2 separate regions of the Homo sapiens genome follow, and region 1 is linked to region 2. Evidence: fine-mapped expression QTL. A gene starts in region 2. The other region holds a variant in brackets. All regions are shown on one strand. Distances are from middle to middle. Region 1 holds the start of LOC124901988 (a long non-coding RNA gene). Region 2 holds the start of OSR2 (odd-skipped related transciption factor 2).

What was found. PIP is the estimated chance that this variant, and not a neighbour inherited with it, causes the effect. A credible set is the group of variants that fine-mapping cannot tell apart.
Region 1: its variant is the best candidate, but not a certain one, in a credible set for the expression of OSR2 in left ventricle (GTEx, PIP 0.74).

What each region holds. Positions count from the first base shown.
Region 1 is chr8:98,365,956-98,370,343 of GRCh38, reverse strand. LOC124901988 (a long non-coding RNA gene) reads right to left here and starts at 2,830. Exons shown (of 2, transcript XR_007061024.1): 1 at 2,747-2,830; 2 at 2,443-2,663. It also overlaps a transcript of STK3 not described here. The variant TA/A (reference allele first, on the strand shown) is at 2,278.
Region 2 is chr8:98,942,111-98,946,498 of GRCh38, reverse strand. OSR2 (odd-skipped related transciption factor 2) reads right to left here and starts at 2,057. Exons shown (of 4, transcript NM_001142462.3): 1 at 1,676-2,057. It overlaps LOC112268016 (collagen alpha-1(I) chain-like), which reads left to right and starts at 3,889. Exons shown (of 2, transcript XM_047422523.1): 1 at 3,889-4,388. The coding sequence starts at 4,156. It also overlaps a transcript of STK3 not described here. RefSeq lists enhancers at 792-1,292, 1,293-1,793 and silencers at 1,939-2,298, 4,151-4,388.

The DNA of each region.
Region 1 (4,388 bases), 580 kb after region 2:
CTGCAGAGGTCAGGGGGTCTGTGGAGTTAGGATATATTTTTAACAGGCCTCTCTAGTTCCTAAAAGAATGAAAGTTCCTGGTCCACTGGCCTGAGAATGCTGAAGTCACTTCAGCCCCCACCCAACAAACATTAAAGACCTGGGAGGCCCAGGGTTCCCGGGGGCTACTGGTGTTAGGGAGAGGCTTGATGGGCCTTAGAGACAAACTGGATCTGTTGCTGCTTCCCAGCTTGTAAAAAAAAAAAAAAAAAAAAATCAAAATCCCATTTTTGATGTCTGACTGTGAGGCCCCATCCATCCCACCCCTTCTGCCCCATATCTGTGCAGGTGGGTGAGAATGCCTGGGCTCACCTTCCTTTAGCACTAGCAGGAATTGAAGCCACACAACACATAAACCTTTGCCCACACGCAGGAACCCTCACCCCATCCCCACACCATAGGCACCATGAAAGCCCAAGCCACATTTCAGATGTGCTTGGGAGCTTGCCCTGCTCTCCCTAGAAAACCTCATTACTTGAGCAATAAACCTTTTTAATACCCTCTTGGTGCATGGGTGGTGTCATCAGTCTTAACATTTGAACAAAATTTTGGGTGGGGGTACTTCCCGTCTCCATGGAGTGACTCAACAGAGCCTCTTGTTTTATCACTGAGGCCTGCACTGCTCTAACATGTCTAGAATTCCTTCTGATTTCTTTATTGGGCCCCTCCTCCTCCCTGCAAGGGAGCTCCCAGTGCAAGGCAGACCCTCATCACAATTGTAGGGCACATGAAACTTATTTTCTGGAATCCCAGGCCTGCCCTTTGTTTTTTTCCCCTTCAGGACATTCATCTTACATCCTCCAGCTGCTAAACCACCTAGCCTTCTGCCCAGCCTTCACACTCACCTCCCCTGAACCCCCGTATTAAAAATACACAAAAAAAGATCCAAAAAACTCCCTCCTACCAAGGCCTTAAATGACTGCTGAATCTTAATACATTGCTTTTGTGGGGAGAAGATCCTTAATAGTAAAAGAACTTAGTTGCTAATGGTAGCGTTTTAGGCTTCAGCAATAGGATAGGCATCTATGTAATTAGGGTCCTAACTCCCAAATACCTTCCCCTTCAACTCACCAGCTGCAATTATGCAATTAGGGCTTCACTCCTTTGGTTCAAAGCTTCATTCTGTTAAAAGGTAATTCTTCCTCCTGCTTTAGTAATTGATACTTAGTGGGCACACAATTATCACATCCTTTCCTGAGGACAGAATATTAGGGGGAAGGGATGGAGATTAAGAGGATATTTGGCAATCAAGGGAGCAGAAAACTTCCACTGGAGAAGGGTTGCAGGACCCAGCAGGAATAGCGAGAGAGTTGGAAATTCTGGTACATCCTCATTTCCAGGGATCTCAGACATGTCCAGTGATGCAAAGTACAATAGGAGCTTGACCTAGAGAATGTTAGTTATGCCAGTGCCCTTGAGGCCATCAGCCCCAACCTCACTCTTTCACAGATGAAGAGCTCAATGTTCCGAGAAGGCCTACGTAAGGTCACCAAGTTACAGCCAGGACCAGGGCTGGAAATCAGGTCTGCTGCCTCCAAGATGGCACCATCAGATGTGATGGCACCATCACAGTTCATCTGTGACAAACAATCAAGCATGATAATTGTGAGTTCCTTTGCTGTTACATTACTGGAACTTACCTTCATTCTGACACGCTTTTGTGAATGCAGGAGACATAGGTTTGGTTGCAGCTGCCATTCCCTAGATTTGACCTAACCTAACCCTGGACATGTCCATGGAGGTGTGGGTGCATATGCAAGTCACCTGCCATGTGTTAGGGGTTTGTGTGGGAACCTGTGTGCTCCCATGTTAGCATGTCAAGGAACGGGGGCCCCTTTATGATCCTATAATGAACTGCTTCTCCTTCAAATCTCTGCAATCCTAAATGCTGGTTGGATGTCTCATTCTTCTTAACCATGTAGACATGTTATGGGGGCCCAGGATCCCCACCCACTTTTGAGAAACTGCAGAGACTGTTTCAGCGAGAAGTCCTGCCCTTTCCAAGTAAGTCAGTTTCCAGAGGACTCCCGTGGCAGTGAGCACCTGCCTCCATACCCCAGGCCAGATCCCAGCAAAGGAAGATAGGCTATAGCTCTTTCAGATTTCTCTCTCAGTAACTGACGTAGTTTTCACCTCTTTTAAAATTCAACATATTGCTTCTTGCAAGACTCAGGCAGGAGTTCCAAGTCAAACAAGGGAGAGAGTGTGCTGTCCTCCCCACTGCTGTTTTTCTCTGTT[TA/A]TTCTGACCCCTGCAGAGTGCCCTGGGGCCATGGCCAGAGCTGTCAATGACACAGCGCAGATGTGAGTGGTGGAGTCAAAGAAAGCCAGCAACCAAAGCATTCAGCCCACTGCTTCTGAAATACAATCAGCGTGCAAGTTCATACATACATGTGTAGATATGTGTTTGCTTTTCCTATGAAAACTTTAATTAGCAAGAAAATTGCAAGTGGCCATAATCCTCCAGCCTTAAAGGCAGCCTGCATGCTGGTGCTGGATTTTTCAAGTCAGTCGGCTTCCTTCATCAATGTGCTTCCCATTAGCCAGAGAGTTGCCCCGAAAGGCTGTCTTCTTTCACCTGCCTCCTCTGAGGGAGGTCTACAGTTGCCTTGTTGACATGGCAGTCACTAAAGAGAAGGAGACTCTGGCTATAGCCTTAGTCCAGGCAGCCCAAACAGGGAGGAAGAAACCCCGCTCCAGCCCCAGGTACCTGGAGATGTGAAATCTGGGTCGTGATGGCCATTCAGTAGACAGGCTTGCTGTGCAAGTCCAGAACTTCAGAACAGCAGTTGGCCTGCAGCCTCTGAGGTTCAGCAGGGACTCAGTATGATTTCTAAGGGTTTCCTATCCTCATCAGCTTCCCATATTCTGGCCTTCCTGTTGCTCTTGGGAGCCTCTAACCAGAAGAAGAGTGGAAGGGGGAGCGATCCAAAGATTATTTCTATCCCTAAGCACTCACCCCCACTGACTCACTCATCTCCTGCTGGGATTCTAAAGCCAGGATAAATGGGCTGGGGTAAGGTTTGACTTTTTAAGAAAACTTTTAGCAACTGCTGCCTGCTTCTTATTCAAATTTGGCTGATGATTATTGAATACTTACTATGGGCTAGGCATTGTGCTAAGTGCTTTCACATATCTAATCTCACACAATTCTTATAACAACCCTGAGAGGGAGGGATGAATATCCCCATTTTACAGATGGACAGATTGTAGAGGTAGAGAATGCTGGAAAATGAAACTGGAGAGCCACCAACACTTTGGAGACAGACCTGAGTTCCAGTCTCTACTTTGTCTTTTACTAACTGTGTGACATGGGAAAGTTACTCAATTTCTGAGCCTTGATGTCCGGATTGGCAAAATAGGCATTGACTTACAGGGCAGTGACAAACAAATGAATAATGCATGTGTAGTTGGCATGCTGCCTAGCATACAGTGGGCATGCAATAAATTAGGCAATGATGACTCTTGGAAAGATAGGTCTAGTAGACGTGTGTGGGGCAAAACTGGGGAGGCTGATGTTGGACATGGGAGTCAGGATAGAAAGCCATGGGTTTTATGTGACAGTCTCAGCTGAAGCCAGGTGGGGGTGGGTGGAGCAGGAATAGACAGATAGATCAGTAAAACAGAATGGAAAGCTCAGAAATAGATCCACCATAAAATGGAGCTTAGTTTATGATAAAGGAGGCGTTATAAATTAGTGGACAAACTGAACCATTCAATAAGTATGTTGGCTTCCTATGTGGAAAACAAAAACAAAAACATTAGATCCCTACCTCACACCACAATTAAAAATAAACTTCAGATGGCTTAAGGACCTAAATGCTCAAGAGAATGTTTTTATGGTATGGAGATAAGACAGTAATGTCAGAAATCATAAAGGAAAATGTTAAAATTATAAACTTCTGGAAAAGTAAAAAACAAATTAAAAAGGATTAATATTCAAAAAATATAAAGAATTTCTTTAAGTCATTATTTTAAAGGACAAAGATTCCAATAGAAAAATGAAGACTATAAGCCAACAATTCACAGAAGAACCCTGAATGTCCAATATACCTATGAAAAGATGTCTGGGCCTCAACAGTAAGTGAGAGTATTTGGTTTAAACAAGGAAATTCAATTGCACATTATTAGCTTGGTAAAAACAGAAAATCACAACAATACAAAGTATTGGTGAAAATATAGGGAAACAGGAATTCAGCAGGTAGGAAAAACCATTTTAGAGAACAATTTTGGTAACATCTAATAAAATTGCAAACACTTGTACCCATGACTGAACTCTCCTCTTCTAGGTTATATCTTAGGGAAATTCCTGTACATGTTTTATAAATACTGCTTATAGAAACAAAAAAAAA
Region 2 (4,388 bases):
AAACCATTGGTCCTTTTGAAACCCTTTTACAAACAGAACAACCTTAAATATCCACCAATGGCTCTTGCCACAAATAATTAGGAAGGTTAAATTTCCACACTCCCATTGAGTTGCTGGAAATGTATGTCAAAAGAAGTATTTTAAGTGAATGCAGAGATCCTAAAGTACTTTCGTTTTGTCTAGAGCTGAGCCTTGTAGTTCCCACACTCCCTTTCAGGAAATAACAGCGATCATCATCTGCTGTCATTTCTCCACCGTCCCGTTTCAGACCACTGGTTACTTTTAATCTTGCAAGGAAAGAAACTTAAACCAATGAAAAGTCATAAATATGTTGGTGGAGCTGAGGCTACTTTTCTTTCATCAGTCTTCTTCACAGGAATTTCCAGGCATGTGGAGAAATTTTGTAAAATTTACTTGACTGGCTGTCACCAAGGAAGATGTGTACACACTTATTTCAGTTCAGTGAAGCTTTCAAAACATTGGAGAAAAAAATTAAGAAGTAACTTGATAAGGAGTTTCGCTCTTTGGTAATGGTAATATTACACTGAATTATCTAAAAATAATATACAGTCAGGGTTCATCTGCTAAAACCTGTGCACTGGTATATGAGATAAATGACTGATGGTCGGATAGGTAGGCTCACTGAATTTCAGCCCAAACCACAGCAGAATTTTATATAAATTAGAGAGCTATAGACTAAGTAGATCAAAGAAGATCATTAAAAAGAAAAAAAATTGTTAAAGGACAGATTGTTAGGGCCAGACTGTATCAGGTGAATAGAGAAACGGCTGCGAAGTTCCTGCCCCTTCAGAGCGCCTCTGCCTTCCCAAGGAGTTAATTAAATTAAGATGCCTTCCGCATAATCTAGGTTCTGTTTCTCTGTGCTCCCCTTGCTCCCCCTGCGTGAGTAATTTTCTTGTTCTGCCCAGGACTGCAGTTTGTTTAGCAGAGAAAGTGGCTGTCTGCGCCCTTTCGCTTCGGGAAACGCCAGCCCCCTTTTGTTCTCGGCTAACAGGTAGGAAGACAGATCCGGGGCTCCCTCCACAAACACCTTTTCCTCGCTCCTTCTTCGTACAACTGCAACTCCTTTCTCACTTGCCGTTTCTCAGGAATCCGAGCGTTTAAGCCCCCGGGGAGTTTGCTTTTGGGCCCCCTCAGTCAGGACTAGAAGGTGGGAGGAGAATTTTAAAGCCAGCACGAGGTTGACAAATTACCGAGGACTGAACTATTTCCCTCTTGAAATGTGCCTTCAGCGTCGCTGGCTGGGCAGGCACCGGGTGTCCGGGCCCGTCCACGCTGCGCTGCCGCGGCTGCCCCGGGACAAGTCGACCCAGGCTTGCTAGGGCAGGAGCAGAAACACCATGGGATTGTGGGGTTTGATCTCAGTGTACGTAGACCAGCTTTTATAAGAAGTCTTGCTGACCGCTTAGATTAAATATCCCAAAACAAAATTAAGAAACAGTATGTAGAAATGTGTGTGGTTGGGTGTTAGCTGGGAGTCGCGTGCCAGGGACCCAAGGAAGTGAGAAATACAGTGCCCTGGGATTGCATCCCCATGATCTATTTTCACATCTGAATTTGGGGCACACCAGACCGAGAATCTGAACGCCTCTTACACCCCCAAACCCTTCCTTCCAAAGGGCAGCTACAGCCCCTTCCCAGAGCGAACACTCACCTCCCGCAGAAAGGTCAACCTGGGCAGCCGCGCTCAGACCCGGTCCAGGCAGCGAGGCGCACAGCTTGGAAAGGTCATTGAGTCCACGCCTGGCAAACTTTTTTTTCCGCGCGGAGTCGCAGGAGTCGCGGACATGATCTGGAGGACCGCGAGCAGCTAAAGCGAGAGCAGATCCACGTCTTCGTCAGAGTCTGTGGACGCGGACTGTGTAAAGACCCGGGGTGCTTGGGGCCGGCGTTCAGCGCTCGCCCAGAACCTCGCTCTTCGGCGAACCTCTCGCTGTCGACTCCCGGTGAGGTCGGAGCCCACAGCCTTGCAGGGCCATCACCCTCCAGCAGCAAGCACGCCGAGCTCCGTCCCCGCCCGCGTCCCTCCCCAGGCTGCCCCAGGCCGGGAGTCTTGGGCTTTAGTAGCGGCCCCGCCTCCCCTTCGGGCGGGCGTCCCGCCGCCGCGCGGGGCCCTCAGCGCCCTGGCTCCGCCTCCGCGCCCGGCGTCTGCTAATGGTCCACTCTGTTTACTTCTGTTTGGATAGCAACTGAGTCTTAAAGGCACAGGTTTGCTCGAGGTTTCCCTGTTATAGAGACGCAGCCGTAGGTGACTCAGTTCAAAACTCACACACAAACACAATACCCACCCCCTTTCTTCTCGTTGCCACTTTTCCTTATACCATTAGAAACTCAACAACTGCTTCTCTGCCTCTCAAAGACTCCACAGAGAATCCCAAAGGGCATTTAGTATTTTTATTTGGTTCGCTCGCCGGCTTAATTTGCACATCTTAACACATTCAATACAACTACCTTCACCGTAAAGTAAAATAATTCAGGTCTAGACTGCATTCTCCAGCATAAATCACTCTTTCCCCAATTTTAAACAGTTTTGTACATACTTTTGGTCAATTATGACTACATGTGTAGTCTGCTTTCGCCTGCTGTTTTCTAAACGAAGTTTGTTTACAGAGGTGGCAATTGACTAATTTAGTAATTATTGCAAAGACGCGTGGAATGCCCCAGGAGAAATTTCTTCCAATATTTAAGCTTTAATCGGCAAATGTTCATTTCATACGCAGTAAACCAACTTGGTTAAAACAGTGGGCATCTGCAACCCATTGGCAAAGAATAAAGAATCCATCTGGAATTGGTGAAGAACAATCATTTTTAAAATTTAGGAAAATGCGATTCTAGTTTTTCAAAACATTTACATCTTCATTCCCAGCAAAAATTGAGTTCAATGTTCAGTCTCCAGGAAAGTTAATAGAATTCAAAGTGCAGTGATACATTTTTCAGGTCCTTCTAAAGGTTTGGTCTTGTGTGAGTGTAACTGCAAAAAGCACTTCAACCTCTCTGGAATAGGGGTGACCGAGTGACAGGAAGGGAATGATACACACCCATTTTAAGCAGCTTCTTTTCAGATGTGATTTGCGTGATCAACACTAAGCAAAAACGCCCTTCGTCCCAGACGAGTTGCCAGAGGGGATCTGTGTTACTCCACGGCAAGCCCGCACTTTGAGGACGTAGATCTTCAACCAAGAGGCTGTACAATTCAAAAGTGTTCCGTCGAAAGATGGTTTTGAATGAGACGCCCCAAAGGACAATTCAAAAAATCTCAATCGTGCGGGGAAGTAGATAAATACAAGCAGAGGCTAAAAACTGTCAAAAGGTTAAGCAGTAATTGGGGAGTCAAGCAGAAGCTCCCAGATATTATTTTATTAAGATAAAATTCTTTCTATTTTATTTATGCCGAGGTGGAGAGAATTTTTCGTTCCTTTGGTAAAACATAACAGGGGTCGCAGATTTTTTTTCTGTCTTTCCAATTTTAAGTTCGCAAAGATTAAAAAGTGAGCTTGAAACGGAGATTCGAGTGTTTAATATCCTGCAGTACTTAACTGCTTCAAAGTAGATTTGACACACAGAATGGAAGCAGCAGAATGCCTAAGCATTCAGATTTTTTTTTTTTTTAACGTTTTGCCTGGTGGGTCCCATAGGGGTGCTTTCATTTTAGAGCTCAGTCCTGAGCCTCAGCTGCGGGATGCCTGCGGTCCTCTCTCTCCAACTGCCTCATTCCTCCTGCAGCTTTTCTCAGTTTGGGAGATTTGGAGGGAGCTTTCTCTTCCTTCAGACTCCCCAAGCCTCCCACTCACGGGGTGGTGACCTGAAGAGCGTTCCTACGCTTCGCACTTCCTTTTCATCAAAGGGGAGGCAACTCCCCAGCAGCGGGCTTCACACCTTTCCCGCCCTTAAGTATGTGTACGTTGGGTGCAGAACCGTTTGGTTTTCCCGAGGGGTAGGCAGAATTTCCAACCCCACGAGCTGCTCCCTCTTTCCGCAAACCTCCTAACCCCGGGGTTTTTCCATAAATGTGTTTACTTCGTCCACGCCAGCCTGCGAAGTTCCAAAATGGAGTCTGGGCCACGCCGGCGTTCTGGGCACGACTACGGTCTCTTGAAAAGGTAGGGAAGAGTCGGCGAGCTCCAGCTTTGGGGGATGCCGCGTGGCCCGGCCGCGCCTAGGCCGCCTGCTGGCCCTGCCGCCTCGATGGGCAGGTGCGCGCCGAACGCGGGGAGCGGCCCGGAGGCTGAGCGCAGCGCAGCACCGTCCGCGGGCCCTCCTGGGCCACCTCTGCGCCCACTGGGGGCTGACCCTTGTGTTTCTCCAGGCTCAGACCCAGCCAGCCCCTCGTCCCGGCCGGCGTCTAGGGCGCAGGCATTGCGGGGCCC